Homo sapiens: one gene and its partners. The protein of the gene in region 1 interacts with the protein of each later gene in a pairwise test. Each region holds a gene or a part of one and is shown in the gene's direction. Other genes may lie near its edges. The genes, in order: SPINK7, RABL6, MT1H and MT1G.

What was found.
Region 2: the proteins of SPINK7 (region 1) and RABL6 interact in binary tests that used the Homo sapiens proteins (3 or more experiments, as listed by UniProt).
Region 3: the proteins of SPINK7 (region 1) and MT1H interact in binary tests that used the Homo sapiens proteins (3 or more experiments, as listed by UniProt).
Region 4: the proteins of SPINK7 (region 1) and MT1G interact in binary tests that used the Homo sapiens proteins (3 or more experiments, as listed by UniProt).

The regions. Positions count from the first base shown.
Region 1 is NC_000005.10:148,307,862-148,315,468, forward strand, and holds the start of SPINK7 (serine protease inhibitor Kazal-type 7 precursor), read left to right. Parts: upstream 1-4,561; 5' UTR 4,562-4,622; coding exon 4,623-4,683; intron 4,684-5,512; coding exon 5,513-5,538; intron 5,539-6,238; coding exon 6,239-6,363; intron 6,364-7,607. UniProt on the Homo sapiens protein: Probable serine protease inhibitor.
Region 2 is NC_000009.12:136,803,190-136,810,984, forward strand, and holds the start of RABL6 (rab-like protein 6), read left to right. Parts: upstream 1-4,758; 5' UTR 4,759-5,007; coding exon 5,008-5,137; intron 5,138-5,537; exon of another isoform or gene 5,538-5,659; intron 5,660-7,795. Other genes in the region: CCDC183 (coiled-coil domain-containing protein 183), read left to right, coding at 1,313-1,438, 1,573-1,627, 2,168-2,268, 2,889-3,049, 3,315-3,483, 3,568-3,678, 3,781-3,877, 4,383-4,501. UniProt on the Homo sapiens protein: May enhance cellular proliferation. May reduce growth inhibitory activity of CDKN2A.
Region 3 is NC_000016.10:56,665,128-56,671,629, forward strand, and holds MT1H (metallothionein-1H), read left to right. Parts: upstream 1-4,686; 5' UTR 4,687-4,757; coding exon 4,758-4,785; intron 4,786-5,378; coding exon 5,379-5,444; intron 5,445-5,770; coding exon 5,771-5,862; 3' UTR 5,863-6,002; downstream 6,003-6,502. Other genes in the region: MT1G (metallothionein-1G), read right to left, coding at 1,752-1,843, 2,185-2,253, 2,839-2,866. UniProt on the Homo sapiens protein: Metallothioneins have a high content of cysteine residues that bind various heavy metals; these proteins are transcriptionally regulated by both heavy metals and glucocorticoids.
Region 4 is NC_000016.10:56,666,230-56,672,658, reverse strand, and holds MT1G (metallothionein-1G), read left to right. Parts: upstream 1-4,593; 5' UTR 4,594-4,665; coding exon 4,666-4,693; intron 4,694-5,278; coding exon 5,279-5,347; intron 5,348-5,688; coding exon 5,689-5,780; 3' UTR 5,781-5,929; downstream 5,930-6,429. Other genes in the region: MT1H (metallothionein-1H), read right to left, coding at 1,670-1,761, 2,088-2,153, 2,747-2,774. UniProt on the Homo sapiens protein: Metallothioneins have a high content of cysteine residues that bind various heavy metals; these proteins are transcriptionally regulated by both heavy metals and glucocorticoids.

The DNA.
Region 1 (7,607 bases):
AAGAAATTATTTCACTACCTTCTAAAAATTACAGTGCTGGACTCCTACATCCTGTTCAAGAAGGACAATCCTGAGCACACAATTAGCCATGTAAACTTCAGACTGACATCGATTGAAAGAATGCTGGAAAAATATCACAGACCATAGCTGGAATATCTTTGAGGTCGTCCATGCTCTGATGATGTCACTCTTCTTTGCCTGTCTGGAAGACATCTCCCCAAGAGCACACCACCAACATCAGGGGGGTGGAATCCAACTGGTCACTGCAAGTTTGCTGCTTACACAATGACAAGCATAGCAAGATCTGGAGAGAAACGGAATATTTTTGTGTATAATATGATGTTCTGCTTTGTGTTGTTCTGTGCTTTGAAATTTACCAAATTAAAAAAAAACTACTAAATACTGATCATCATTTACATTTCTGTTACATTAGGATTAGAGATAAGTTCTGTTTAGAAATAACTCCAAGAACAGTTTTTGTATTTTATTTTCACATTGAAAATTAGATTTACTTCAGCCTCAAAGAGCATGTTTATGTAAAAATAAATGAATGCCGGCAGCAAGCTGCACTTTTTTTTTCTAAATGGGAAAAGAGCTAATTTTATTCTGCCTTCTTCATGATGAAACCAGGACCATAGTTATTCTCTCTTACAAGGCCTCAAGATTTTCTCCTTGGAGAACTATAAGGATAAATGAAAAAACTATCCTGAAATGGACTGCTTTTATCTTCACAGGCTTTGACTCTCATTTTAAAAGCCTCCTCCATAATTTGTGCCTCAGTATCTGGCTGGAAAATTTCCTCTCTATGTAAATGGCTTCCAAAACCCAAACCAACCCCTCTCCTGATCCCTTGACCTCACCTTTCCTCATCCTTTTCAATCGAGAGACGTTTATCTCCACCCACTGGATACACCCTGAGGATCATTATCTCAGCCCCACCCCTGAGAAATAGTATCCGACAACTTGATTCCTAGCCCTGTCTCAATAAACAATTGTTCTTATTTCCTATACCTACCACATTTTGCCTAAACCTTGATCTCTAAACACTTAAATGCCTGTACCTTGTGTAGCCCATCAGAAACTTCTGGAACATTTAACTCTCTTTCAAGCTTTGCCACCTCCTAATGCAGTCTTTATGGTATCTTCAAGCCTCTGATGTATCCATTCCCTATCTATAAAATCACTGTTCCCCATTTCTCACTCTGTGTCGCACAAACTTTGGGAGAAATACGAGGAATAGTACTAATTGGGCCTTCTAAAATCTAGTTCTAACTTGTCCAGTGGCCATTAATCTTTAGATCCATTGCTGACTATCTGACATGCTGCCAAGTCTTCTATCATCTGTCTCAAGCTCCCAAACGAACCCAGTTCTCCCAGTGCAAAAAAGCAAACCAGCACTGAACAACTAGAGCCTACCTTACAGTGGGCTTCCCCCATCTCTCCTTCCTTACCCTTCAAAATATGCCTGTCTCTACATTTATCCACTCTTCTCTCTCTCATGTGTCAGAGAAAATGGTTTTTCATCTGTGCTCTTAACCTTATTTTCTATCTTTCTACATGCATCTAATTAGCCACTCTCTACCATGTATGTAAAATTTCTTCTTCTCTTTGGTTTTAAGACATGCTCAGTCTATCCTAGATCTTTCTGTAGCCTCAGCTTCTTCCATTCCTCCTTTGACTATCAAAAATTTAAAAAAAAATCTGTGATCCTATCTTTTACCACCATTTTGACCACCCTTTGACCCTATTCCCACTCCTCTTTGATAAAAGCACATTTTCAAACTGCAATAAAGATACCTCATCTTGAAACACAATGGCTTTTTCTTAGGATTCATTCTTTTCAAACATTCATGGCAAACAATGAAACCTACAATTACCTCTCCTTATTGGAACCTTCACTTTGCTTCTTTTCCTTGACTGAACTCAGCAGTTTCCTCCATTAATTGTATCATGATCCTTGGGAGATTACTTAAATCCTCTGAGTCTTAACTTACTCACTGGCAAAACTAGGGTAACAAAAACTCCTTCCTTAATGAGTTGTTATAAAGAGCACATTCCATATTATTAGCTACCATATATCAAGATCTAATTATGAGCTTGGTGCCCTAATACACAAATACATACAAACCACACAAGCATACCACACAGACACCTCACAGACATGCATCCATAAGAGATTATATGCACAGTTGACCCTTGAATAAAATTGGTCTGAACTGCACATGTTGACTTATACATAGATTTTCTTCTACCTCTGCCACTCCTGAGACAGTAAAATCAACTTTTCCTCTTTCTTCTTCTCCTTAGTCTACTCAAGATGAGGACAACAAAGATGAAAACTTTTATGATGATCCATTTCCACTTAATTAATGTAAATATATTTTATCTTCCTTACAATTTTCTTAATAACATTTTCTTTTTTCTAGCTTACTTTGTTGTAGGAATACAGTGTATAATACATGTAACATACAAAACGTGTAGATTAACTGTTTATGTTATTAATAAGGTCAACAGTAGGATATTAAGGATATTAATAGTTAAATTATTGAAAAATAAAAAAATTGTATGTTAATTTTTCAACTGTGGTGGTGTCAGCACCCCGGACGCCATGTTGTTCAAGAGTTGAATGTATAATGTGTGTGTGTGAGAGAGTGTGTGTCTGTAAAATCTAATTTAACACTCAAAACAACCTATGAGGTAAATATTATTTCTGTCATAAGGATGAAGACACTAAAGTATCAGATGTTAACCTAAATACTAAAAGACACACAGTCAACATTTTTTAGAAGAAAGATTCTAAATGGGATCTACTCAATGCCCATGCTCTTAACTACTAGATTACATTGCCTCCCAAACAGATATAGGAGTAAAATATTAGAGATTATGCAATATCATTTATTAGTCACTTAATATGTCTTGTAGATGCTAGTTTTAGAATGTACTAAAATAAACCTGCCAAGCAGTAAACTAGTGGGACAGTCTACTGCCTTCCCCCAGGTCTTCATACATATGTCCTTAAACTCAATAAGCAAACTGCAGCTATTTGGACAGTTGTGCATGGACAATACAGTTTACAATCTAATGTCAGCAACTCATAGCATTAACTCTTGGTTTGTAAATAATAATAACAATCACAATAATATTATTAAATGCACTGTGCTTTAGAGCAGACTTTTATGTATATGATTCCAATTATGTGAACTCTATTGTGGCTAACAACAGGCCCTATTGGACTGGGATGAAACTCAGTCTCTGGGATGGTCTCTGTTGTTTGCCAACTATTCTAGTTCTTCATCCAACCTTCAGGTCAGGGAACAGGTCAGGACAAGGTAAGACTGTGTATTAATCTGTTTTCAAGCTGCTGATAAAGACATACCCAAGATTGGGTAATTTATAAAGAAAAAGAAGTTTAATGGGCTCACAGTTCCACATGGCTGAAGAGGCCTCACAATCATGGCAGAAAGTGAATGGCATGTCTTACATGGCAGCAGGCAAGAGAGAATGAGAGCCAAGTGCAAGGGGAAACCCCTTATAAAACCATCAGATCTTGTGAGACTTATTCACTTCCATGAGAACAGTATGGGGGAAACTGCCTCCATGATTCAATTATCTCCCACCAGGTCCCTCCCACAACATATGGGAATTATGGGAGCTACAATTCAAGATGGGATTTGGGTGGAGACACAGCTAAACCACATCAGATTGATTGCACTCACTCCATACATAACAAAGCATGTGATGGCCACGAGACCATGAGGGGAAGTGACAGCAGTATTGCTCTGGGCTGGAAGTTTTAATTGCTAAAATGAGAACTCCTTGAGAACGAACTCAACTTCACTTCACCTTGACTACAGTGTTCCAAATAGTGATGACTCTGCCCACTTGGCATCCACAGTGAAGGCAATGTAGCATGAACAGCTGACTACCATACAAGTGTAGCTTGAGTAAGAAACAAAGTTTTGTTTTAATTCACAGAAATCTTGTGGTTACATGTTATCACGACATAACCAAGCCTTTTGGATTGATAAAGGCTCACAGCATATAACGACTTATCCAAGATTATACAGGTAGAAAATATCAGAAGTATTATGTTAGTGCTTTTCTCCATACCTCATAAATGCTAATGTCAGTGTTCCTTCCATTAGGTCCCAGTTTGCTTCATTGGTTCATTGCCTCAAAAATAAACAATATTTCCCCAGGTGCCAAGATATAAACGTAGGTGTAATCAGTCTAATCGGGGTTTAATAGATTCCAGTTTCGTAAAATAAAGGAGGTTTGAGATTTTCACTTATTTCATAACTAAGTCAAGAAGCTCATACTTAGTCTCTTCTAGTTCATGAAGTTTAGAATTCTTAACAGTCCCACCTTTGGGGAAGATAGAAAATACTTCTTACCTCAAATAATCAAATCATTGGTCAGATAAGAAGTGGCAGTTCAGTAACAAGGACTGTAACACAGCCCAGGGTGTGGCACCGTGCTTTGAGATCCTCTGGATGACCTCACAGGAAAGGCGGAGAAACCAAGCCTTGCATATATATAAACATGACCCCTTACCTGGGATATGGTCGATGCAGCTGTAGTGACAATCTCAGAGCAGCTTCTACACCACAGCCATTTCCAGCATGAAGATCACTGGGGGTCTCCTTCTGCTCTGTACAGTGGTCTATTTCTGTAGCAGCTCAGGTAAGTTAAGGTCAGACAGTGCCCTATATAGCCATTAAGATTGTTTTCATAAATAATCCCTCCTGCGATGTGAGCATCTCAGAAACATCTGGTTGTAAGAATTTAAAGTGTACTGGTTTGTAATAGGATCTTATGTTCCATCTGGAGTTTGAGAGACTTGAGTCCAATGTCTTCACTTTCAAGGATTCTTATTTGCATCCATAGAACAAAAAATGATCTAATTTCTCTGTAAGTCTTCCATTTCTATGTTCATATGGACACTGGAAGTTGTCAGTGTTATTAGATATACCATTTCTTAGTGCAAAGATACAGAAAAACTTGGATGTCTTCCCAAATCAGTTTGGGGGGATTAAAATAAAACACAAGTCTCAAAAAGCCAAGGGTCAACAATTAGACTTTTATACTGTGAAAAATTAATTAAAGTGTTTCCAACCACATAAAGACATTCAATTGCATTTCTTTATGTCAATTGGGAAGGAAAGGATATCAGAGATGATCCTTCAGGCTCTTAGGAGTGATGATTTTAATACTTCTTATTGCTACTTGACTTTGGCCATTATCAAAAACACTATGAGGTTCAGAAAACATTCCATGATCAATAAATAGAGGAAATTTTTATAATTCTCTTACCTAAACCAAGGGTTAACCTAACCCATTGGCCATTCAACTTCCTCAGCAAACAACTAGGATTTTGCATAAGGATGGAGAGTGTGCTGAATCTCATTGCTAAAGGAAATGTAGAGTAATTATATAGGATGAAACTTATATTAATTAATGAGATTTAAAGTTTGCTTTACTTTTAACATCTTCATCTGTATCTCTTTTTCAGAAGCTGCTAGTCTGTCTCCAAAAAAAGTAAGTATGTTGAATAACATTTTAATGTCAATAACTATTGACTGTCATTTAGTCAACATATATGTAGGATAAATTATGTTTAGGGGGATTCGAGAGGGAGGCAAACACACATGGAGAAATGGTACCTGTTCTCCAGAAGGCAACTAAACAAATATGACATACATATAAACAACCATATTTTAAAAATGTTTTTTAAAAATGCCAGAGTTAAAGAAGGGAGAACCGCCTTCCAGCTGAGAAGTTGGTGATGTTTTCATAAAAGGCATAACGTGTAAAAGGCAGAGCAAAAGTACCCTGATAAATTGCACAGGCTCTAGATTCAAATCCTAACTCTACTACTTACCAGCATTTATCTTCAACAAGTTATCTCTATTTCTAAGCTTTAATTTTCACATTTGTAAAGAGAGGTAATAGTAGAATTTACTCTAGTTGTTCTGAAGATTAAACAAGAAAATTCATGCAAGATTTAAGTTTAACGCCTAGCCCAGAAATGCCCAGCAATTGTTAACTGAGTGTAGCAGAAAAAAATAGAATACCAGTAGTGCTAGTATTTGTCATAGTGATAACACTAGTACTTAAAGAAGTGGCCAAGCAACATCTGAATATCTGAGCTGGGACTTCCAGCCCTTGTAGTATATCTAATAGTGGCCTAGCTTGGGGTCTGGGAGAAAAACAGGACATTTGCTTGTATATGACACAGGTGGACTGCAGCATTTACAAGAAGTATCCAGTGGTGGCCATCCCCTGCCCCATCACATACCTACCAGTTTGTGGTTCTGACTACATCACCTATGGGAATGAATGTCACTTGTGTACCGAGAGCTTGTGAGTACCTCATAAGAAGAAAATGAGATCTGGAGTCAGTGCTCTCTACTACAAACGCTTCTACTTTCCAGGATCCAGCTTAAATCTCTATAAGCTGTAATTTATAATTATTCCCACCCAGAACAGCAGGTGGGGATAGAAAACTGACTGTTGCACAATCAGACAGGGTAGAGTCACCTGCTCTGCCAGCTTGGACTAGTCCCATCCCATCACAGAACCTCCAGTTCCTGTCTGTCAATTGTGAGAATCCAGTAAGGCTGTGGATTCTCAAACTGCTGTCCCCAGAGCACAGAGGTTCTATAGAGGCAAGTCAGGAGTCACCATTAGGGTTAAAGGGACTATTTGGGGTAGTTGACAACATAAAGTTCAGCTTTGACTATTTTAAGTAGTGGAGTGCCATACAATATCATGCTTGAAGAAAGGGCCCTGAATCCCCACCCCCCATAAAATAATTGAAAACTACTACACTACCTGACTTAGATTCTAAGATAATTAACATCCTCACTGCAGCTTGATTCTTAGACAAAGTGTCCCTAGAGGTTCTTTATCTTCGAATTTCTAGAGGCTCTAAGTATCTGTAGCTTTAAGGGGGGAATAAGGCTACAAAAATGATTACTTTTCCTTTATCTAAAATAAGGGATGCAAGCTGTCAGTATTTGGACCAGAATACCACGGACATGTTTTGTTTAGGTATTTTCTTTGGCCCACAAAATGTTTTTGCAGAAATGTAGCTAGGCAGATGTCACTTCTTTGGTACAAGACATGCAAATTACACTTAACTGTCTCATAGCAAGTCTGCTGTGATCATCGTTAACTCTTTTAGGCCACTGGATTTTGGACACTTAGATCTTGCGTTTTCATCTTTGTGATTATCTTAACAAGTGAGAACAACAAGCCCTTAGCCCAAAAGGACATGTCTATGTATTTATTCCTATTTGGGAGGTTTTATTTCACAAAAGGGAAAATTCTGTAACATAGGCAGACTGGGAAACTAGCCCTTGGCCAGGAAACTAGCTGTTTTCAAGGGACACTGGAGAGAAACATGATGAAAGTCCTCCTCACTAATGCAGGATCCAGCTTCGTCAAAGGACTTGCTGACCAGGAAAAGCTGAGAGACAGGCCCTCTCAATTTTGTCAGAGTACTCTTTCTTTGTTGTGTTAAGACACTGGGTGGTCAGTGGGGCTCTGGAATCAGAGGAGGCAGCAGAGGGGTGGAATTATCACTGGACTAGGGAAATTCTGCT
Region 2 (7,795 bases), on another chromosome or scaffold:
CAAGGTGAGCTCAGGGCCCAGGGCTGGGGGCCCCCCAGGGCCAGCCCTCTTGGATCTTCGGATGGGGTCAAGGTGAGCTCAGGGCCCAGGGCTGGGGCCCCCCAGGGCGGGCTCTCTTGTGTCTTCTGGCCAGGGTCTCTCAGGAGACCCCCATGCCCACACTGCCTACAATCCCCAGAAGGATCCAGTGGCCAGCCCGGCCAGCCTGCTCTGCTCACCCACTGGACAGAGCAGGTCCCATCCAGCACAGGAGCCATGAAGTAGAGGAGAGGGAGAGAACTGGCCGGGCCAGGGCGGGGGTCACCTATTCACCCAGTCTGTGCCAAGGTCCCTGCAAGGCTCTGGGGATACAGCAGGGACCGGGACAGGCAGACCCTGTCCTCCTGAAGTGGGTGGCACTCATCCAGTAGTCCATGAAGAAATGCCACACAGCCCCTGAGCCAGCTCAGCAGAGACAGGTGGGGTGGCAGATGGCTTTCCAGGAAGACAGTGCTTGAGCTGGGCTGAGGGATTGAACCCGCAAAGGTCAGGTGTGGCCAGGGCTAGGGAGGAGGAGGTACAACTTGGGAAAAGGCCCTGGGCTGGGAGGGGTGTGATACATGGAGCAGCGTGTGGCCAGGGCAGTGGAGGCTGCAGAGGCACAGGCCCCAGGAGTCCACGGAGGCGGCTGGGCTGGGGGCCCAAGGACTGACCTGGAGCCCTGGGAGGAGGTGGAGGAAAGATGTGACCAGGTCTGTGCTTCAGAAAGGGTGTACTCAGGCTGCAGGGACTGGAAGGTGCCAGGGCAGAAGCGCTGATCACCTGGGTATACCCGGGGTGGAGAAGGGGTGGCCAGGAGCAACGGAGCTGAGAACTCCTCAAGAGGCAACCCCACTAAGCGCTGGCAACGAGAGTGGCGAGGGTGAGAGCAGTGTCTGGGGTGCGTGAGCAGGGGTTAGCAGATGACGGTTTTAGCTGCCCAAGGGCACGCTGGAAGAGGCCAGGTTTTGGGGAAGAGGATGAATCTGTCTTCAGGCAGGCTGAATGCACTTCCGTGAGTTCTAGGTGGACCTGGCCAGGAGGCAGCTGGGGGCCAGCGGCTGGAGGGCAGCAGAGCGTCTGGGCTGGCACATGCTCTGAGGCATGGGCAAGGAGGGCCGTGAGCTGAGGGGCCACGGGCACAAGTGGTTTAGGAAAAGGGTGTGGCCATTGGCCGGGGATGCAGTTCCAAAGTCTAGTAAGGTGAGCATGGCCAACCGCCCGCTGGCTTTACTGCCATTAGGGGCCTTGTTGAGACAGCTCCCCAACCCTGTGCCCACCCGCATGTCCCCAGAGGAACATGAGGCAAAGGGAGGCGTCCTTCATCGAGGAGCGCCGGGCAAGGGAGAACCGGCTCAACCAGCAGAAGAAGCTGATCGACAAGATCCACACGAAGGAGACCAGCGAGAAGTACCGCCGGGTAAGCCCCAGGCCAGGGCCTGGCTGGCTGCCCATCCCCATGACAGCTGGGTGGACACAGGCTCAGGGCCACCACTCAGGGCCCACTCCCTGCCAAGGATGTCTCATCCCTTCCCCGCCCCCACCTCCCATCAGGGCCAGATGGACTTGGACTTCCCCTCGAACCTGATGAGCACGGAGACCCTGAAATGTAAGCGCTCAGCTCCCCACCTGCCCCCAGCCAGGGTCCCAAGGAGAGGCTGGCACTGATTCAGGCCAACGGATCAAGTCACCCTGAGGCCAGGTGTGACATGTGGTCGCCAGGGTGAAGGGAAGGACAGGTCCCTGCCTCTCCCTCCAGAGGCTGAGAGCCTGTAGCCAAATGTGGCCTCAGAGATGCTGGCCCCAGCACCCAAGGGCCCTGCACCAAGGGCCCAGTCCCCAGTGACTCTGCAGAGGATGAGCATCCTGACCCCTAAGCTGCCTCTGAGAAGCACCACCGGGCCCACAGTGCTCACAGTGCTGCGCCACTCACTCCGGGTCCACCTCTGCTCTGGGGCTGCCTGGGGCGTCCCTGCAGGGCTGGGCTGAGGAGGGAGCAGGTTGGGGCGGGGGCAGGCATCTCTGAAGGATGCCTGTGTCTTGGGTGGCCGCCCCAGCAGCTGGGCAGGTACAGAGGTGTCTGACAGCCTTACACAGAGCCCCTGAGCCATCCCTGCATGCTGACTGCCCCTCCCCTCTGCTCTGCCAGTGAGGAGAAAAGAGACCTCCACAGCAGAAATGGAATACCAGTCGGGCGTGACTGCTGTGGTGGAGAAGGTCAAGAGTGCTGTACGGTGCTCTCACGTCTGGGTAATGCCCCTGGCGCTCCCAGAGAATGGCAGGAGGGTGGCTGAGCCTCTCACGTCTGGGTAATGCTCCCTGGCACTCCCGGAGCATGGCAGGAGGGTGGCTGAGCTGGGCTGGGGTCTGAGGCACTCTGAAATGGACACACAAAGTGGCAACTCCCTCGGCCGCCCCAAATCCTTTTATCTTAATCCCATCTGTGTATCTGCGTTTATTATTATTAGGCCTTGAGCTCCTAACCACTGCCCTGACACAAGCTTGTCCACTGTCAGACAAGTGACTCAAGTGACACAACGTCCTTCAGTGATGATCTCCTTATCTCTACATGGGGTTATCTACCCTCTCTGCCTGCCATTAGGGTCGTGTGCAATGACATCCACAAAGCGCTTCACCCCTGCTAAGTGTGGTGGTGCACACCTGTGGTCCCAGCTACTCAGGAAGCTGAGGTGGGAGGATCGCTTGAGTCTGGGAGGTTGAGGCTGCAGTGAGCTGTGATCACACTTGTGAATGAGCACAGAGAAAGTGCACTAGCGTCTAGGAGGGGCCCAGAAGAAACCAGTTCTGTGAAGCCCCCTCTGCCCACCATCCTGGCCCACACCTGCTTCTCTCTCCCCCGGACTGGCCAGGACATCACTAGCCGCTTCCTGGCCCAGAGGAACACGGAGGAGAACCTGGAGCTGCAGATGGAGGACTGTGAGGAGTGGCGGGTGCAGCTGAAGGCCCTGGTGAAGCAGCTGGAGCTGGAGGAGGCCGTGCTCAAGTTCCGCCAGAAGCCTAGCTCCATCAGGTGCCCCGGGCTTCCGGGGCTGCGGGCCACCCACCCCAGTCTCACAAAGGCCCCGGGCTGCAGCCAGGCTGGGAGCTGGGAGTATACCCACTGCCAACAAGCCTGTGTGTCCCACAGAGGGGCCAGGGGACTCCACTTGCACACACCTGAGCTTCTGAGTCCCTGATTCTGGCACAGCACCCAACTCAGGACTGGGCTCCTGGGTGGCCCACCATGGCTCTCGGGCCTGTGCCCCTCACTGCTGTGTCCCTATTGCCTTCTGCAGCTTCAAGTCCGTTGAGAAGAAAATGACAGACATGCTAAAAGAGGAAGAAGAGAGGCTCCAGCTGGCGCACAGCAACATGACCAAGGGCCAGGAGCTGCTGCTGACCATCCAGATGGGCATCGACAACCTCTATGTCCGGCTGATGGGCATTAACTTGCCTGCGACCCAGGTACCGGGAGTGAGGCTGAGCTGCCACACACCAGGTCCCTGGGCAGGGCCAGAGGGGAGATGAGACCCTCCTCCCGGCCTACAGAGAGAAGTGGTGCTCTCCAACACCCTCGATTTGAACAGCAAGCTGGCGTACTGCGAGGGGAAGCTCACGTACCTGGCTGACAGAGTGCAGATGGTGTCCAGGACCGAGGAGGTAGCCCCGGGCTGGGAGGAACCTGCACAGCCCACGTCCCCTCAAAGCTGACAGGCTCCCGTTCAGAGTGTCTGCACGGCTGAAGGGGGCTTTGCCCTGCAGGGCGACACAAAGGTGAGGGACACCCTGGAGTCCTCGACTCTGATGGAGAAGTACAACACCAGGATCAGCTTTGAGAACCGGGAGGAGGATATGATCGGTACAGGCCCCGGAACTGGGGCCCGGGCTGCAGGCGGGTGGCTGGAACACAGGTCGGGGTGGCGCCGGCTCCCATCCCACCGGGACATCCTGGAGGGACAGCGGGGCTACAGGGTGCATCAGTTGTACCTGCAGGACTTTAATTGATGGAGGTGACTTAGTGATGCCATGGGGAGGCTAAAGCCACTGAAATACCTTGTTAATTTCTCCGAAAGGAGGAGGCATGCCATGCCAGACGGGCCCGGAGGAGAGGCACCAGGGCTGGAGCAGGGAGGAGCGCGGTGAAGGCCTGGGCCGGAGCTTCCACTGGGGGTTCTGCGGGAAAGGCTAGGCAGGGCAGCGTGAGCCGCTGCGAATGGGCTGGGCTGAGTCCTCCCGGCACGCTGGGGCTGTCCCTGGGGCAAGGCACCTGGCCCGGGTCGGTGGAGGGCGGGGGCGAGAGGCGGGTCGGGCGGCTGCGCCTAGCTGGGCTAGCCCCGTGTGCGAGCCGCCGCCTCCGCCCGCAGACACCTTCCAGTTCCCCGACATGGACCACAGCTACGTCCCTTCGCGCGCCGAGATCAAGAGGCAGGCGCAGCGGCTAATCGAGGGGAAGCTCAAGGCGGCCAAGAAAAAGAAGAAGTAGCCCCGCCGCCCCGCTCCCTGCTTTGCTACACAAATAAACATTTTTCCAGGACTGCTGCGGACGCTGGGGCGACCGGGGTCTCGGAGAGGAGCACGGGACACGCAGGATCGGGGGAGGTTCTGCGTAAGGAGGCAGCCCGGGCCCGGAACTGCGCGCCAGAACCGCGTGCGCATGCGCCGACCGCGCGCGCCGCGCCCCCGCGGCCCTCGCGGCGCCCCGTAGCCGCGCACCCCTCCCGTCCCGCCGAGCCGGCGCCAAGATGGCGGCGCTGACTCCTGGAGAGCGGTCGCGCCGGAGGCCGCGGGGGCCGGAGCGGAGCAGCCGCGGCTGAGGTTCCCGAGTCGCCGCTCGGGGCTGCGCTCCGCCGCCGGGACCCCGGCCTCTGGCCGCGCCGGCTCCGGCCTCCGGGGGGGCCGGGGCCGCCGGGACATGGTGCCAGTCGCACCCCTTCCCCGCCGCCGCTGAGCTCGCCGGCCGCGCCCGGGCTGGGACGTCCGAGCGGGAAGATGTTTTCCGCCCTGAAGAAGCTGGTGGGGTCGGACCAGGCCCCGGGCCGGGACAAGAACATCCCCGCCGGGCTGCAGTCCATGAACCAGGCGTTGCAGAGGCGCTTCGCCAAGGGGGTGCAGTACAACAGTGAGTGCGGCGGGCCGGGGGGGCGCGGGAGCGCCGCGCGGGTCTCCGAACCCAGGCCCCGGGCGCCGCGCGGTGGTGGGTGTCGGTCTCACCTGCTTGCCGGTTGTGGGGTGCGCTGGGCCCGCCGGGCGCTCCGGGAGCGGGGGCGCGGGCCAGGGGACGCGAGGAGAGGCCAGGCCAGGGCCGGGTCCTCGCGGCCCCCGAGCCGCGGGTCGTTTCCCAGCCGCACTCGCCTGCCGCGTGTCGCTCCCGCCGCGCTGTGCAGTGGAGCGGGTCGGCGGCGGCGGGGTTGGCCCGGCTGCCCGGCCCGGGGGTGATTACATAATGCCAAGCAGGGCCCGCCGGCCCGGGGCGCCGCGCCCCCGACGCTCCACGGTGCCCAGCCCCGGGCACCACTCACCTGCAGGAGGTGCGGGGAACCCAGCCGGCCTTGGCGCTTTCAGCGGGATTTTTCTTTGTTGACTTCCTACTGAGTTTGAAGACAGAATATTAGCTACGCCACACATTCTCGCCTTTTTTTTTAAAAGAAGCGTTTGTAAGAGACGTATCTAGAAAAGCTCCAGAAGGCACGGGCTGACTTGCGACTGTAGGAGACATCCCATTTCTCGTAGGAAGGAGGAGTCATTTACGGACTCCTGAGTGCCTGGGACGCTCCATTCCTTTGTTATAAATTGTGTAAATTGTCCTCGACCTCTTATGAGTTTTTCCATCTTGCGGGCTCTTTCCCAGTAGTTTTTGAAAGCTTTTATGTGGTTCCCTGTTTTGACATTGCTTCCCTCTTAGCCATTTCCGTATGTTTCTATGAGGTTTTAGGACGCTACGCCTATCCAGTTTTTTGGTCACTTTAAGGGGAGCCTTAGAGCCTCCGTGATATTTCCATGGTAATGTAGAATTTTAAGAACTAATGATCAGAAAGACTCTTGTGCAGGTTTAAAAGCAAGTTCATGAATTCGCGTGCCGTGTGCACGGAGAGAGGCCGTAGTTCCTGGGGCTGGAGCTAGTCCAGGAGGACAGTGAAGATGTCGCCTTCCTTAGTCCCCCGGCCTGTGAGCAAGAGGAAGCTGCAGACCACTCGGGCCACCCTCACCCAGACACCTTTAGCAGTAAGCAAGATAAAACAACTTCTTAAAGATAAGTCTGAGCATCTAGGTATGAAAGTTGGTGTCCGGGCCGGGCACGGTGGCTCATGCCTGTAATCCCAGCACTTTGGGAGGCCAAGGCGGGCAGATCACGAGGTCAGGAATTCGAGACCAGCCTGGCCAACATAGTGAAACACCGTCTCTACTAAAAATACGAAAAAAAAATTTAAAAGAAAGTTGATGTCCGAACCAAGGGCCGTATTGGCTTTTCTTATACTCTAGAACATACGACGACAAAGAAGATTTTGATGAAGTTCAAATTAGAGTCAGCGTGCTCATCAGAAAGAAAGCGCAGCCAACACGTTTAGGAACAGAAACGGATTATGTTGAAGACAAACAATCCATTGCGTTTGTGTTCAGTAACCCAAGCATCAAAGGAACTTGTGGCTGGGGAGAAGGCTTGACTATTTGAAATCTCAGGACTCCTCTGTCCAGGAGCTCCCAGACTCCCGTGGAGTGGAAGCCTGGGGGCTCGCTGAAGAAGTCACGTGACTGGAACGTGCTTAATGCTTGGCTGTCTGGTAAGGAAAATAAAGTGGTGCATTTTGAATAAAAATAAAAGCTGATTTTAAATGTGTTATAATTGAAACTTTATACATAGCTGGCATTCGGAGAAGAGAATATTGAGTCAAAATAACTGAGTTTACGCCAGTTTTTAGACTCTGCGTTTGGATCCTTTATTTAATTTTATTGCTTACAGTATTGGCTAAGCTCAGTATTAGTCCCTGGGAAATCAGGCCTGGACCTGGAAACTGTTCACCTTCTGAAAAGGCTCCCCGAGGGTCCTGGGCAAGGTCCACCTCATGCACCAGGACCACCCCTGTGTGGTCCTGGGCGAGTGTGACTAAAAAGGGCAATGGGGTCCTTCCAGAGGAGAAAAGCCAGTCTCCAGTACTTGGAGAACAGGTTATGATCTCCTAGAACTGAATGAAAGGTGGTGAGACAGAGAGAAATTTGAATTTGTACCTAAATTACATTTTAGAAAGATGTTATCTTTATAGCTGAATAACATGCAATTTTAAAACTTTTGAGTTTCTGTGTTAGAATAGAAAGTTTCTAGTATTTCTTTTCTTTTCTTTTCTTTTTTGAGACAGAGTTTTGCGTTTTGCTGTGTCTCCCAGGCTGGAGTGCAGTGGCGTGATCTCAGCTCACTGCAAGCTCCTCCTCCCGGGTTCACACCATTCTCCTGCTTCAGCCTCCCGAGTAGCTGGGACTATAGGCACCGGCCACCACGCCCGGCTAATTTTTTGTATTTTTAGTAGAGGCAGGATTTCACCGTGTTAGCCAGGATGGTCTCAATCTCCTGACCTCGTGATCTGCCCGCCTCAGCCTCTCAAAGTGCTGGGATTACAGGCGTAAGCCACCATGCCCGGCTTTCTGGTATTTATTTTCTCAAATATTTTACAGAGCGTAACAGACCAGCAATGTGATCAAGACAGAGTCGAGGGTTTTGGGGGTGAGAGTTTCTGGGAACTGCTGCGGGTTTCCAGGAGTCTGGGCTCTCCTCCTGGGCCCTGCA
Region 3 (6,502 bases), on another chromosome or scaffold:
TGAGACAGAGTCTCATTCTGTTGCATAGCCTGGAGTGCAGTGGCACAATCTTGGCTGACTGCAGCCTCTATATCCTGGACTTAAGCAATCTTCCCATCTCAGCCTCCAGAGTAGCTCAGACAGACACAGGCCACCAGAGCCATATAATTTTTGTATTTTTTGTAGAGACGGGGTTTCTCCATGTTGCCCGGGCTGGTCTCAAACTCCTGGGCTCAAACAGTCTCCCTACTTCTGCCTCCCAAAGTGCAGGTATTACAGGCATGAGCCACTATGCCCGGCCCACACTCTCATTTAATCCCTGCATTGAGATATAATCTCCTTTCTACAAATGAGGCACTAGATGCTCAGAGAGTGTGGGTGACTTGCCCAAACCACACAGCCAGTAAGTGGTGGAGTGGGCTGTGAAATAAGACTCCCTGACACCTAAAACTATGCCCTAGGGGCAGGCTGCCTTCTGAAATCATTTCACAAGGAAGCAACAGGTAAGTGTGGTCCTGACTTCTACACAAGGAGATTCATCTTCCTCTTTGACTGAACATCAAATAGCATTCCCTCCACAAGTGGAGGGACTAACTTGTCATTAACAAGACATCCAGGGACTCTTTCTTTCCTAAGGAACATCACCACACTCAGCCAGCTGCACAATCTGCCATAGCTGTGTTCTGAGAACTTCTGTAAACAAAGTAATATTAATTATGGAGATGATGAAATCACAATCAAAATTCCAAACTAAGTTCATCTGCAACCCACGATCACACTACATCTTGGCGGGAATATGCTGGTTTGAAGTAGTCAAGGGCTGGAGTTTGAAAGAGGAACAAATGAAGCCTGACCTTGGGAGGAACTTCCAAAGATTCTGAGCCAACTCCCAACAGGGAGCTCTCAGGATTCAGCGAGTGTCCTGAGTGTGCTGTCTGTCTGTGACGCCGGCTAGGCCAAGCCTGATGGTTCCTCATGAGAATGTCCTGGCCTGTGCTGCTGAAGGTGTGGTCCACAGTGGGGTCAGTCTGCTGTTTCCAGTCTCCAATGCAACTCATCCATGAACATATGTGCAGAGTTTGTAAACCTTCCATTTTTCTGTTATTTCTGTATGTATTTATTGATTTTTTTGTGTAAAATGTAAAACATGGGTTCTGTATTTTGTGTTTCATTATCTTCATAGTTAATATTACTTTATTTACAAAGGTTTAGGTCTGGGATGGATAGAAAATGAAAACTGTCCCTTCACCGTGGAGTTTGAGAAGCCCCGTGGAGGATTCAAGTAATTTAGGCATTGGAATCCACCTCCTGTGGTCACTTTCAAGCCTAAAATCCGCGGAGGATCTGAACTTGGGCAGGGAAACCTGAGAATAAACATGAGGAATGGAGAAGTCTCTGTACCACGTTTAATGAGTGGAGCTGATCGCGTATGTCCCCATCCCCATATCATCCAGCACAGTGCAGGTGCCTTTTACAGAAGATGGAGGTCAGTGATGTAACGGGGCTTGCCTGAAGGCGCTCAGACTGTTCAGCACTCACATTTCCATCCAGAGCCCAGTCTAAACTCCCAGTTCAATCTCCCACCCCAGTCCCTCATTCCAAAAACACAACAGGAACCAGAACGGGAATCAAGTCTAAGTGTTTAATTATTATTCACATATTTCACAGAAAAAAAGGAATGTAGCAAAGGGGTCAAGATTGTAGCAAAAAACAAAAAATCCTGGATTTTACGGGTCACTCTATTTGTACTTGGGAGCAGGGCTGTCCCGACATCAGGCGCAGCAGCTGCACTTCTCCGATGCCCCTTTGCAGATGCAGCCCTGGGCACACTTGGCACAGCCCACAGGGCAGCAGGAGCAGCAGCCTGGGGAGGAAAGGAGATTGAGAGGTCAGAGCAGACTCGATCAGAGAACTCCCTGCCCCAACAGAGGCCTGTCTCCATCCCTCCAGCCCCAGAGGACCCTTAGTTCATGATGGCATGGTTTTTGTCAGGAGACAACTGGTGGACATTGGAATGGGTCTTCCTTTGAGAAAGCTGCCCCACCTCACATAAGCCCTGGAAAGTGCAGAAGACTAGACAGGCAGTGACAACCTACAGGGACAAAGGAAGGCCGGTTCCCCAGAAGCACGCACTCAGGGACAGCCTTGGGTTCCCTCCCAACCTTAGCCACAGCCCCAGATTCCTGGAGATGGCCCCGCACTCACTCTTCTTGCAGGAGGTGCATTTGCACTCTTTGCACTTGCAGGAGCTGGCGCAGGTGCAGGAGACACCTGCTAGAAGAGAAAAAGCCAGTGAACGGTGAGTGAGATGCAGAAGGTACAGCAGTGGGTCAATGAGTGTCCACTTCCCCCTTCTCTGTGCAGAGCCAGCCCTCAGAGCTCCTTTCCCACTCAGAGCAGAGGAAGAGAAGCCCCATGTCCTCTCCATTCATGCTGGGAAAACCAAGCACCCTCCTATTTCTACTCCAAAGGAAAGTCCCAGGCTGCAGACATGGCCCAGGAAGACTTCGACTTTCTGTCCTGAACCTGGAAGAGGCAATGTCCCCTCCTATCCAATGTCTCCTATCCAATCCGGTAGCTCAGAGTCAGGTTAGAGAATTGGGGCTCAGCCAGCAGCCCTGTGACCAACCAGGTGACGTGGAGCAGGACAGCCTTGAGCCTCAGGACCCTCAACTCTGACATAGAGGAACAGGGAGGAGGAAAATGCCCTCAGGAGCTTGGCCAACAGGAAAGCACTGGACCAATAAAGGAGTCCCCTTTACCTCTGATAGCAAAATACGACCTCCTCAAACCCAGGGACACTCTCTATGGTGTCTGGGAATTTGGCATCCCAAGGCACAGAACCCGGGCGTCCCTTACCAGCGGCACAGGAGCAGTTGGGGTCCATTGCAACCCGAGGCGAGACTAGAGTTCCCAAGCGAGAAGGGAAGAGGCAGTGGGTGCACGTGGAAGGCGGAGTGGAGCCCAACAGCCAGCGGCTGTTTTTATAGTCAGGAGACGGGGCCGGGCGCAGACGCCCCGCCCCGCCCTTGCACCCAGCCCGCTGAGTCCGCACCGCCCGCGGTCCCGGCCTGGGCTGTGCGCAGGAGATGGGCCAAGTGCAAGGTCCCTTGAGCGCAGCTGGGCGCACACCGCAGGACGGCCCCTTTCGCACCGGCTCGCGAGGGAGGCGCTGTGCCCCCCGTGTGCGGCTTCTCTCACCCTGCCAGGCCTTCCCAGCTTCCCTGAGGTTGCCTGCTACACCCGCCCCTTGGCGTTCCGCCTACCCCAGTATTCTGGCTTTCCCCTCACCTTCACCAACGCCCAGGTCTCTAGTCAATAGCTAAGCCTTTCCTGGAGTCGAGGGCAACCCCAGTCTTGTGCTCCACTTTCTGGATCTGCCAAAGCGGGGAGCATAGCAAGGGAGTAGTGTGCAAAGGGCAGGCCAAGGGTGCGAACTTCGCATCTCTGGCAGTATCCGCCCTGTCCCCGTTCCCACCTCAGTCCTTTGGTCACGCTTCTCCTGTGCTCAGTAACACGGAAGAAACAGTGATCTGCCTCTCTCTTCTATTCTCCACTCTTGAGGAGCTGAATGGGCCCATTTGTCCAGGTCCTCCTTTGCATAAATCTCTCCAGGGTCTCCCCACAGCCTAGCCGGGTACCCCACTACAGGATGGCAGTTTGGAAAGTGTGGCAAGTCCCTAGAAGAGGGATCATTGAAGGTGATATGAAGATCCTGCATTAAATTAGAAAGCAAGAGCGCTGGTTATTTTTCCTTCCATATTCCTATTACTCTATGTTACACGGGTCTGTGTTTGGCCCTGTTTAATCACTTTCTGTCTTTGAACCCTCACAGCAACCCTAAAGGGACATGAGTCCTTTTCACGAACCCGTATTCCTAATCTGGACAATGACGAGGAGTTCAAGCCACTAGCCCAGGGTCAGGGAGCTGGGAAGTGGCACTGCTTGGTGTGAATCCTGTCAGCTTCCCTAGGTAGAGAGGTCAGTGATGAAGCTTCTCTATGGCCTAGGTATGTTTATCTCTTCACTGCTTGAAATCTTTCAACAAAACCAAGCATTACAGTCAGTCCTGGAAGCAAAACAGAGACATAGAGGGATATGAATAAGTATACTTTGATGGGAGGGAGGCAGGGTCCTGTGTCTTCCGTGTTGCTGTGCACAGGAGAAACGTGGCCGAAGAACTGAGGTGGGGACGGGGACAGGAACAGGCAATGCCAGAGATCTGAAGGTCGCATCCTCGGCATGTCCCTTGCACACTACTCCCTCGCTGTGCTCTCTGCTCCCACCAATCCAGACAATTGAACAAGAGACTGGGGTTGCACTGGGACTCCAGGAAAGCCTTAGCTGTTGACAGGGGGTGGGCAGGCCCCGGGGTGTGGGGCGCAGGTCAGGATCTCGGGGCACGCGGAACGCCAAAGGGCGGGAGTAGCAGGTAATCTCAGGGAACTGGGCAGGCCCGGCAGGGTGAAACAAGCAGCTCACCCGGGTGCACAGCCCCTCCCGCGGGAGCCGCTGCGAAAGGGCCGTCCCCGCGGTGTGCACCGACCTGCGCTCAGGGTACTTTGCGCCCGACCCGTCTGCTGCGCACAGCCCAGCCCAGGACCGCGGGCGGCTCGGACTCAGTGGGTCGGGTGCAAGGGTGGGGCAGGGTCTCTGCACCCGGCTCCCTCCCCTGACTAGAAAAGGAGCTGCCAACTGTTGCGCTCCACCACGCCCTCCACGTGTTCCACTGCCTCTTCTCTTCTCGCTTGGGAACTCCAGTCTCACCTCGGCTTGCAATGGACCCCAACTGCTCCTGCGAGGCTGGTAAGGAACGCCCGGGTTCTGTGCCTTAGGATGCCAAATTCCCAGACACCATAGAGAGTGTCCCTGGGTTTGAGGAGGTCATATTTTGCGATCTGAGCTGAAGAGGACTTCTTTACTTCCTCCGCTGCTTTCCTCTTGGCCAAGCTCCTGAGAGCATGTCCCTCTTCCCTGTGCCTCTATGTCAGAGTTGAGGGTCCTAAGGCTCAAGGCTGTCCTGCTCCACATCACCCCGTTGGTCACGAGGCTGCTGGCTGAGCCCCAATTCTCTAACCAGGCTCTGAGCAGCCGGATTGGATGGGAGGCATTGGATAGGTGGGGACATTGCCTCTTCAGGGTTCAGCACAGAAAGTCGAAGTCGCAGTCTTCCCGGGCTGTGCCTGGAGCCTGGGACTTACCTTTGGAATACAAACGGAGGGTGCTTGGTTTTCCCAGCATGAATGGAGAGGAGATGGGTCTTCTCTTCTTCTGCTGAGTGGGAAAGGAGCTCTGACGGCTGGCCCTGAACAGAGAAGGGGGAAGTGGACACTCATTGACCCACTGCTGTAACTTCTGCATCTCACTCACAACACACTGGCTTTTTCTATTCCTTGCAGGTGGCTCCTGCGCCTGCGCCGGCTCCTGCAAGTGCAAAAAGTGCAAATGCACCTCCTGCAAGAAGAGTGAGTGCGGGGCCATCTCCAGGAATCTGGGGCTGTGGCTAAGGTTGGGAGGGAACCCAAGGCTGGCCCTGAGTGCCTGCTTCCTTTGTCCCCCTAGGCCGTCACTGCCTTTCCAGTCTTCTGCTCTGTCCAGGGCTCCTGTGGGGCTGGGCAGTCTCTCATAGGAAGACTCACCCCAATATCCACCAGTCGTCTCCTGAAAAAGCTGTGCCATCCTGAACTAAGGATCCTCTGGGGCTGGAGTCTGAGCTTGAGCCAGGCCTGCTGTTGGGAGAGGGAGCTCCCTGGTCAAGTCTGCTGTGACTTCTCTCTCCCTTTTTCCCCAGGCTGCTGCTCCTGTTGCCCCCTGGGCTGTGCCAAGTGTGCCCAGGGCTGCATCTGCAAAGGGGCGTCAGAGAAGTGCAGCTGCTGTGCCTGATGTCGGGACAGCCCTGCTGTCAGATGAAAACAGAATGACACGTAAAATCCAGGATTTTTTTTTTCTACAACTCCGACTCATTTGCTACATTCCTTTTTTTCTGTGAAATATGTGAATAATAATTAAACACTTAGACTTGATTCCCGTTCTGGTTCCTGTTGTGTTTTTTGGAATGAGGGACTGGGGTGGGAGATTGAACTGGGAGTTTAAAGACTGGGCTCTGGATGGAAATGTGAGTGCTGAACAGTCTGAGCGCCTTCAGGTGAGCCCCATTACATCACTGACCTCCATCTTCTGTAAAAGGCACCTGCACTGTCCTGGCTCATATGGGGATGGGGACATACGCGATCAGCTCCACTCATATTAAATGTGGTACAGAGACTTCTCCATTCCTCATGTTTATTCTCAGGTTTCCCTGCCCAAGTTCAGTTCCTCAGCAGATTTTAGGCTTGAAATTGGCCACAGGAGGTGGATTCCAATGCCTAAATTACTTGAATCCTCCATGGGGCTTCTCAAACTCCACGGTGAAGGGACAGTTTTCATTTTCTATCCATCCCAGACCTAAACCTTTGTAAATAAAGTAATATTAATTATGAAGATAATGAAGCACAAAATATAGAACCCATGTTTTACATTTTAC
Region 4 (6,429 bases), on another chromosome or scaffold:
TCCTCCCTTCTCAGCCTCCAGAGCAGCTAGGACCACAGGTGCATGGCATCACATCGTCTAATTTTTGTAATTTTTGTAGAGATGGGGTTTCTCCGTGTTGCCCAGGCTAGTCTCAAACTCCTAGGCTCAAACAACCTTCCCACCTCTGCCTCCCAAAGTGCAGGTATTACAGGCATGAGCCACTGTGCCTGGCCCACTCTCTCATTTAATCCCTGCATTGAGATATAATCTCCTTTCTACAAATGAGGCACTAGATGCTCAGAGAGTGTGGGTGACTTGCCCAAACCACACAGCCAGTAAGTGGTGGAGTGGGCTGTGAACTAGGACTGCCTGACAACTAAAACTACACCCTAGGCGCTGGCTGCCTTCTGAAATTGCTTCACAGGGAAGCAGCAGGTAAGCGTGGTCCTGACTTCTACACAAGGAGATTCATCTTCCTCTTTGACTGAACATCAAATAGCATTCCCTCCAGAAATGGAGGGACTAACTTGTCATTAACAAGACATCCAGGGACTCTTTCCTTCCTAAGGAACATCACCACACTCAGCCAGCTGCACAATCTGCCATAGCTGTATTCTGAGAACTTGTGTAAATAAAGTATTAGTAATTATGGAAATGATGAAATCACAATCAAAATTCCAAAATAACTTCATCTGCAACCCACGATCACATTGCCTCTTGCCAGGAGCATGCTGGTTTGAAGTAGTCAAGGGCTGGAGCTTGAAAGAGGAACAAATGAAGCCTGACCTTGGGAGGAACTTCCAAAGATTCTGAGCCAACTCCCAACAGGGAGCTCTCAGGGTTCAGCGAGTGTCCTGAGTGTGCTGTCTTGTGTGTGATGCTGGCTAGGCCAAGCCTGATGGTTCCTCATGAGAATGTCCTGGCCTGTGCTGCTGAAGGTGTGTGGTCCACAGTGGGGTCAGTCTGCTGTTTCCAGTCTCCAATGCAACTCATCCATGAACATATGTGCAGAGTTTGTAAATCTTCCATTTTTCTGTTATTTCTGTATGTATTTATTGATTTTTTTGTGTAAAATGTAAAACATGGGTTCTATATTTTGTGCTTCATTATCTTCATAATTAATATTACTTTATTTACAAAGGTTTAGGTCTGGGATGGATAGAAAATGAAAACTGTCCCTTCACCGTGGAGTTTGAGAAGCCCCATGGAGGATTCAAGTAATTTAGGCATTGGAATCCACCTCCTGTGGCCAATTTCAAGCCTAAAATCTGCTGAGGAACTGAACTTGGGCAGGGAAACCTGAGAATAAACATGAGGAATGGAGAAGTCTCTGTACCACATTTAATATGAGTGGAGCTGATCGCGTATGTCCCCATCCCCATATGAGCCAGGACAGTGCAGGTGCCTTTTACAGAAGATGGAGGTCAGTGATGTAATGGGGCTCACCTGAAGGCGCTCAGACTGTTCAGCACTCACATTTCCATCCAGAGCCCAGTCTTTAAACTCCCAGTTCAATCTCCCACCCCAGTCCCTCATTCCAAAAAACACAACAGGAACCAGAACGGGAATCAAGTCTAAGTGTTTAATTATTATTCACATATTTCACAGAAAAAAAGGAATGTAGCAAATGAGTCGGAGTTGTAGAAAAAAAAAATCCTGGATTTTACGTGTCATTCTGTTTTCATCTGACAGCAGGGCTGTCCCGACATCAGGCACAGCAGCTGCACTTCTCTGACGCCCCTTTGCAGATGCAGCCCTGGGCACACTTGGCACAGCCCAGGGGGCAACAGGAGCAGCAGCCTGGGGAAAAAGGGAGAGAGAAGTCACAGCAGACTTGACCAGGGAGCTCCCTCTCCCAACAGCAGGCCTGGCTCAAGCTCAGACTCCAGCCCCAGAGGATCCTTAGTTCAGGATGGCACAGCTTTTTCAGGAGACGACTGGTGGATATTGGGGTGAGTCTTCCTATGAGAGACTGCCCAGCCCCACAGGAGCCCTGGACAGAGCAGAAGACTGGAAAGGCAGTGACGGCCTAGGGGGACAAAGGAAGCAGGCACTCAGGGCCAGCCTTGGGTTCCCTCCCAACCTTAGCCACAGCCCCAGATTCCTGGAGATGGCCCCGCACTCACTCTTCTTGCAGGAGGTGCATTTGCACTTTTTGCACTTGCAGGAGCCGGCGCAGGCGCAGGAGCCACCTGCAAGGAATAGAAAAAGCCAGTGTGTTGTGAGTGAGATGCAGAAGTTACAGCAGTGGGTCAATGAGTGTCCACTTCCCCCTTCTCTGTTCAGGGCCAGCCGTCAGAGCTCCTTTCCCACTCAGCAGAAGAAGAGAAGACCCATCTCCTCTCCATTCATGCTGGGAAAACCAAGCACCCTCCGTTTGTATTCCAAAGGTAAGTCCCAGGCTCCAGGCACAGCCCGGGAAGACTGCGACTTCGACTTTCTGTGCTGAACCCTGAAGAGGCAATGTCCCCACCTATCCAATGCCTCCCATCCAATCCGGCTGCTCAGAGCCTGGTTAGAGAATTGGGGCTCAGCCAGCAGCCTCGTGACCAACGGGGTGATGTGGAGCAGGACAGCCTTGAGCCTTAGGACCCTCAACTCTGACATAGAGGCACAGGGAAGAGGGACATGCTCTCAGGAGCTTGGCCAAGAGGAAAGCAGCGGAGGAAGTAAAGAAGTCCTCTTCAGCTCAGATCGCAAAATATGACCTCCTCAAACCCAGGGACACTCTCTATGGTGTCTGGGAATTTGGCATCCTAAGGCACAGAACCCGGGCGTTCCTTACCAGCCTCGCAGGAGCAGTTGGGGTCCATTGCAAGCCGAGGTGAGACTGGAGTTCCCAAGCGAGAAGAGAAGAGGCAGTGGAACACGTGGAGGGCGTGGTGGAGCGCAACAGTTGGCAGCTCCTTTTCTAGTCAGGGGAGGGAGCCGGGTGCAGAGACCCTGCCCCACCCTTGCACCCGACCCACTGAGTCCGAGCCGCCCGCGGTCCTGGGCTGGGCTGTGCGCAGCAGACGGGTCGGGCGCAAAGTACCCTGAGCGCAGGTCGGTGCACACCGCGGGGACGGCCCTTTCGCAGCGGCTCCCGCGGGAGGGGCTGTGCACCCGGGTGAGCTGCTTGTTTCACCCTGCCGGGCCTGCCCAGTTCCCTGAGATTACCTGCTACTCCCGCCCTTTGGCGTTCCGCGTGCCCCGAGATCCTGACCTGCGCCCCACACCCCGGGGCCTGCCCACCCCCTGTCAACAGCTAAGGCTTTCCTGGAGTCCCAGTGCAACCCCAGTCTCTTGTTCAATTGTCTGGATTGGTGGGAGCAGAGAGCACAGCGAGGGAGTAGTGTGCAAGGGACATGCCGAGGATGCGACCTTCAGATCTCTGGCATTGCCTGTTCCTGTCCCCGTCCCCACCTCAGTTCTTCGGCCACGTTTCTCCTGTGCACAGCAACACGGAAGACACAGGACCCTGCCTCCCTCCCATCAAAGTATACTTATTCATATCCCTCTATGTCTCTGTTTTGCTTCCAGGACTGACTGTAATGCTTGGTTTTGTTGAAAGATTTCAAGCAGTGAAGAGATAAACATACCTAGGCCATAGAGAAGCTTCATCACTGACCTCTCTACCTAGGGAAGCTGACAGGATTCACACCAAGCAGTGCCACTTCCCAGCTCCCTGACCCTGGGCTAGTGGCTTGAACTCCTCGTCATTGTCCAGATTAGGAATACGGGTTCGTGAAAAGGACTCATGTCCCTTTAGGGTTGCTGTGAGGGTTCAAAGACAGAAAGTGATTAAACAGGGCCAAACACAGACCCGTGTAACATAGAGTAATAGGAATATGGAAGGAAAAATAACCAGCGCTCTTGCTTTCTAATTTAATGCAGGATCTTCATATCACCTTCAATGATCCCTCTTCTAGGGACTTGCCACACTTTCCAAACTGCCATCCTGTAGTGGGGTACCCGGCTAGGCTGTGGGGAGACCCTGGAGAGATTTATGCAAAGGAGGACCTGGACAAATGGGCCCATTCAGCTCCTCAAGAGTGGAGAATAGAAGAGAGAGGCAGATCACTGTTTCTTCCGTGTTACTGAGCACAGGAGAAGCGTGACCAAAGGACTGAGGTGGGAACGGGGACAGGGCGGATACTGCCAGAGATGCGAAGTTCGCACCCTTGGCCTGCCCTTTGCACACTACTCCCTTGCTATGCTCCCCGCTTTGGCAGATCCAGAAAGTGGAGCACAAGACTGGGGTTGCCCTCGACTCCAGGAAAGGCTTAGCTATTGACTAGAGACCTGGGCGTTGGTGAAGGTGAGGGGAAAGCCAGAATACTGGGGTAGGCGGAACGCCAAGGGGCGGGTGTAGCAGGCAACCTCAGGGAAGCTGGGAAGGCCTGGCAGGGTGAGAGAAGCCGCACACGGGGGGCACAGCGCCTCCCTCGCGAGCCGGTGCGAAAGGGGCCGTCCTGCGGTGTGCGCCCAGCTGCGCTCAAGGGACCTTGCACTTGGCCCATCTCCTGCGCACAGCCCAGGCCGGGACCGCGGGCGGTGCGGACTCAGCGGGCTGGGTGCAAGGGCGGGGCGGGGCGTCTGCGCCCGGCCCCGTCTCCTGACTATAAAAACAGCCGCTGGCTGTTGGGCTCCACTCCGCCTTCCACGTGCACCCACTGCCTCTTCCCTTCTCGCTTGGGAACTCTAGTCTCGCCTCGGGTTGCAATGGACCCCAACTGCTCCTGTGCCGCTGGTAAGGGACGCCCGGGTTCTGTGCCTTGGGATGCCAAATTCCCAGACACCATAGAGAGTGTCCCTGGGTTTGAGGAGGTCGTATTTTGCTATCAGAGGTAAAGGGGACTCCTTTATTGGTCCAGTGCTTTCCTGTTGGCCAAGCTCCTGAGGGCATTTTCCTCCTCCCTGTTCCTCTATGTCAGAGTTGAGGGTCCTGAGGCTCAAGGCTGTCCTGCTCCACGTCACCTGGTTGGTCACAGGGCTGCTGGCTGAGCCCCAATTCTCTAACCTGACTCTGAGCTACCGGATTGGATAGGAGACATTGGATAGGAGGGGACATTGCCTCTTCCAGGTTCAGGACAGAAAGTCGAAGTCTTCCTGGGCCATGTCTGCAGCCTGGGACTTTCCTTTGGAGTAGAAATAGGAGGGTGCTTGGTTTTCCCAGCATGAATGGAGAGGACATGGGGCTTCTCTTCCTCTGCTCTGAGTGGGAAAGGAGCTCTGAGGGCTGGCTCTGCACAGAGAAGGGGGAAGTGGACACTCATTGACCCACTGCTGTACCTTCTGCATCTCACTCACCGTTCACTGGCTTTTTCTCTTCTAGCAGGTGTCTCCTGCACCTGCGCCAGCTCCTGCAAGTGCAAAGAGTGCAAATGCACCTCCTGCAAGAAGAGTGAGTGCGGGGCCATCTCCAGGAATCTGGGGCTGTGGCTAAGGTTGGGAGGGAACCCAAGGCTGTCCCTGAGTGCGTGCTTCTGGGGAACCGGCCTTCCTTTGTCCCTGTAGGTTGTCACTGCCTGTCTAGTCTTCTGCACTTTCCAGGGCTTATGTGAGGTGGGGCAGCTTTCTCAAAGGAAGACCCATTCCAATGTCCACCAGTTGTCTCCTGACAAAAACCATGCCATCATGAACTAAGGGTCCTCTGGGGCTGGAGGGATGGAGACAGGCCTCTGTTGGGGCAGGGAGTTCTCTGATCGAGTCTGCTCTGACCTCTCAATCTCCTTTCCTCCCCAGGCTGCTGCTCCTGCTGCCCTGTGGGCTGTGCCAAGTGTGCCCAGGGCTGCATCTGCAAAGGGGCATCGGAGAAGTGCAGCTGCTGCGCCTGATGTCGGGACAGCCCTGCTCCCAAGTACAAATAGAGTGACCCGTAAAATCCAGGATTTTTTGTTTTTTGCTACAATCTTGACCCCTTTGCTACATTCCTTTTTTTCTGTGAAATATGTGAATAATAATTAAACACTTAGACTTGATTCCCGTTCTGGTTCCTGTTGTGTTTTTGGAATGAGGGACTGGGGTGGGAGATTGAACTGGGAGTTTAGACTGGGCTCTGGATGGAAATGTGAGTGCTGAACAGTCTGAGCGCCTTCAGGCAAGCCCCGTTACATCACTGACCTCCATCTTCTGTAAAAGGCACCTGCACTGTGCTGGATGATATGGGGATGGGGACATACGCGATCAGCTCCACTCATTAAACGTGGTACAGAGACTTCTCCATTCCTCATGTTTATTCTCAGGTTTCCCTGCCCAAGTTCAGATCCTCCGCGGATTTTAGGCTTGAAAGTGACCACAGGAGGTGGATTCCAATGCCTAAATTACTTGAATCCTCCACGGGGCTTCTCAAACTCCACGGTGAAGGGACAGTTTTCATTTTCTATCCATCCCAGACCTAAACCTTTGTAAATAAAGTAATATTAACTATGAAGATAATGAAACACAAAATACAGAACCCATGTTTTACATTTTACACAAAAAAAT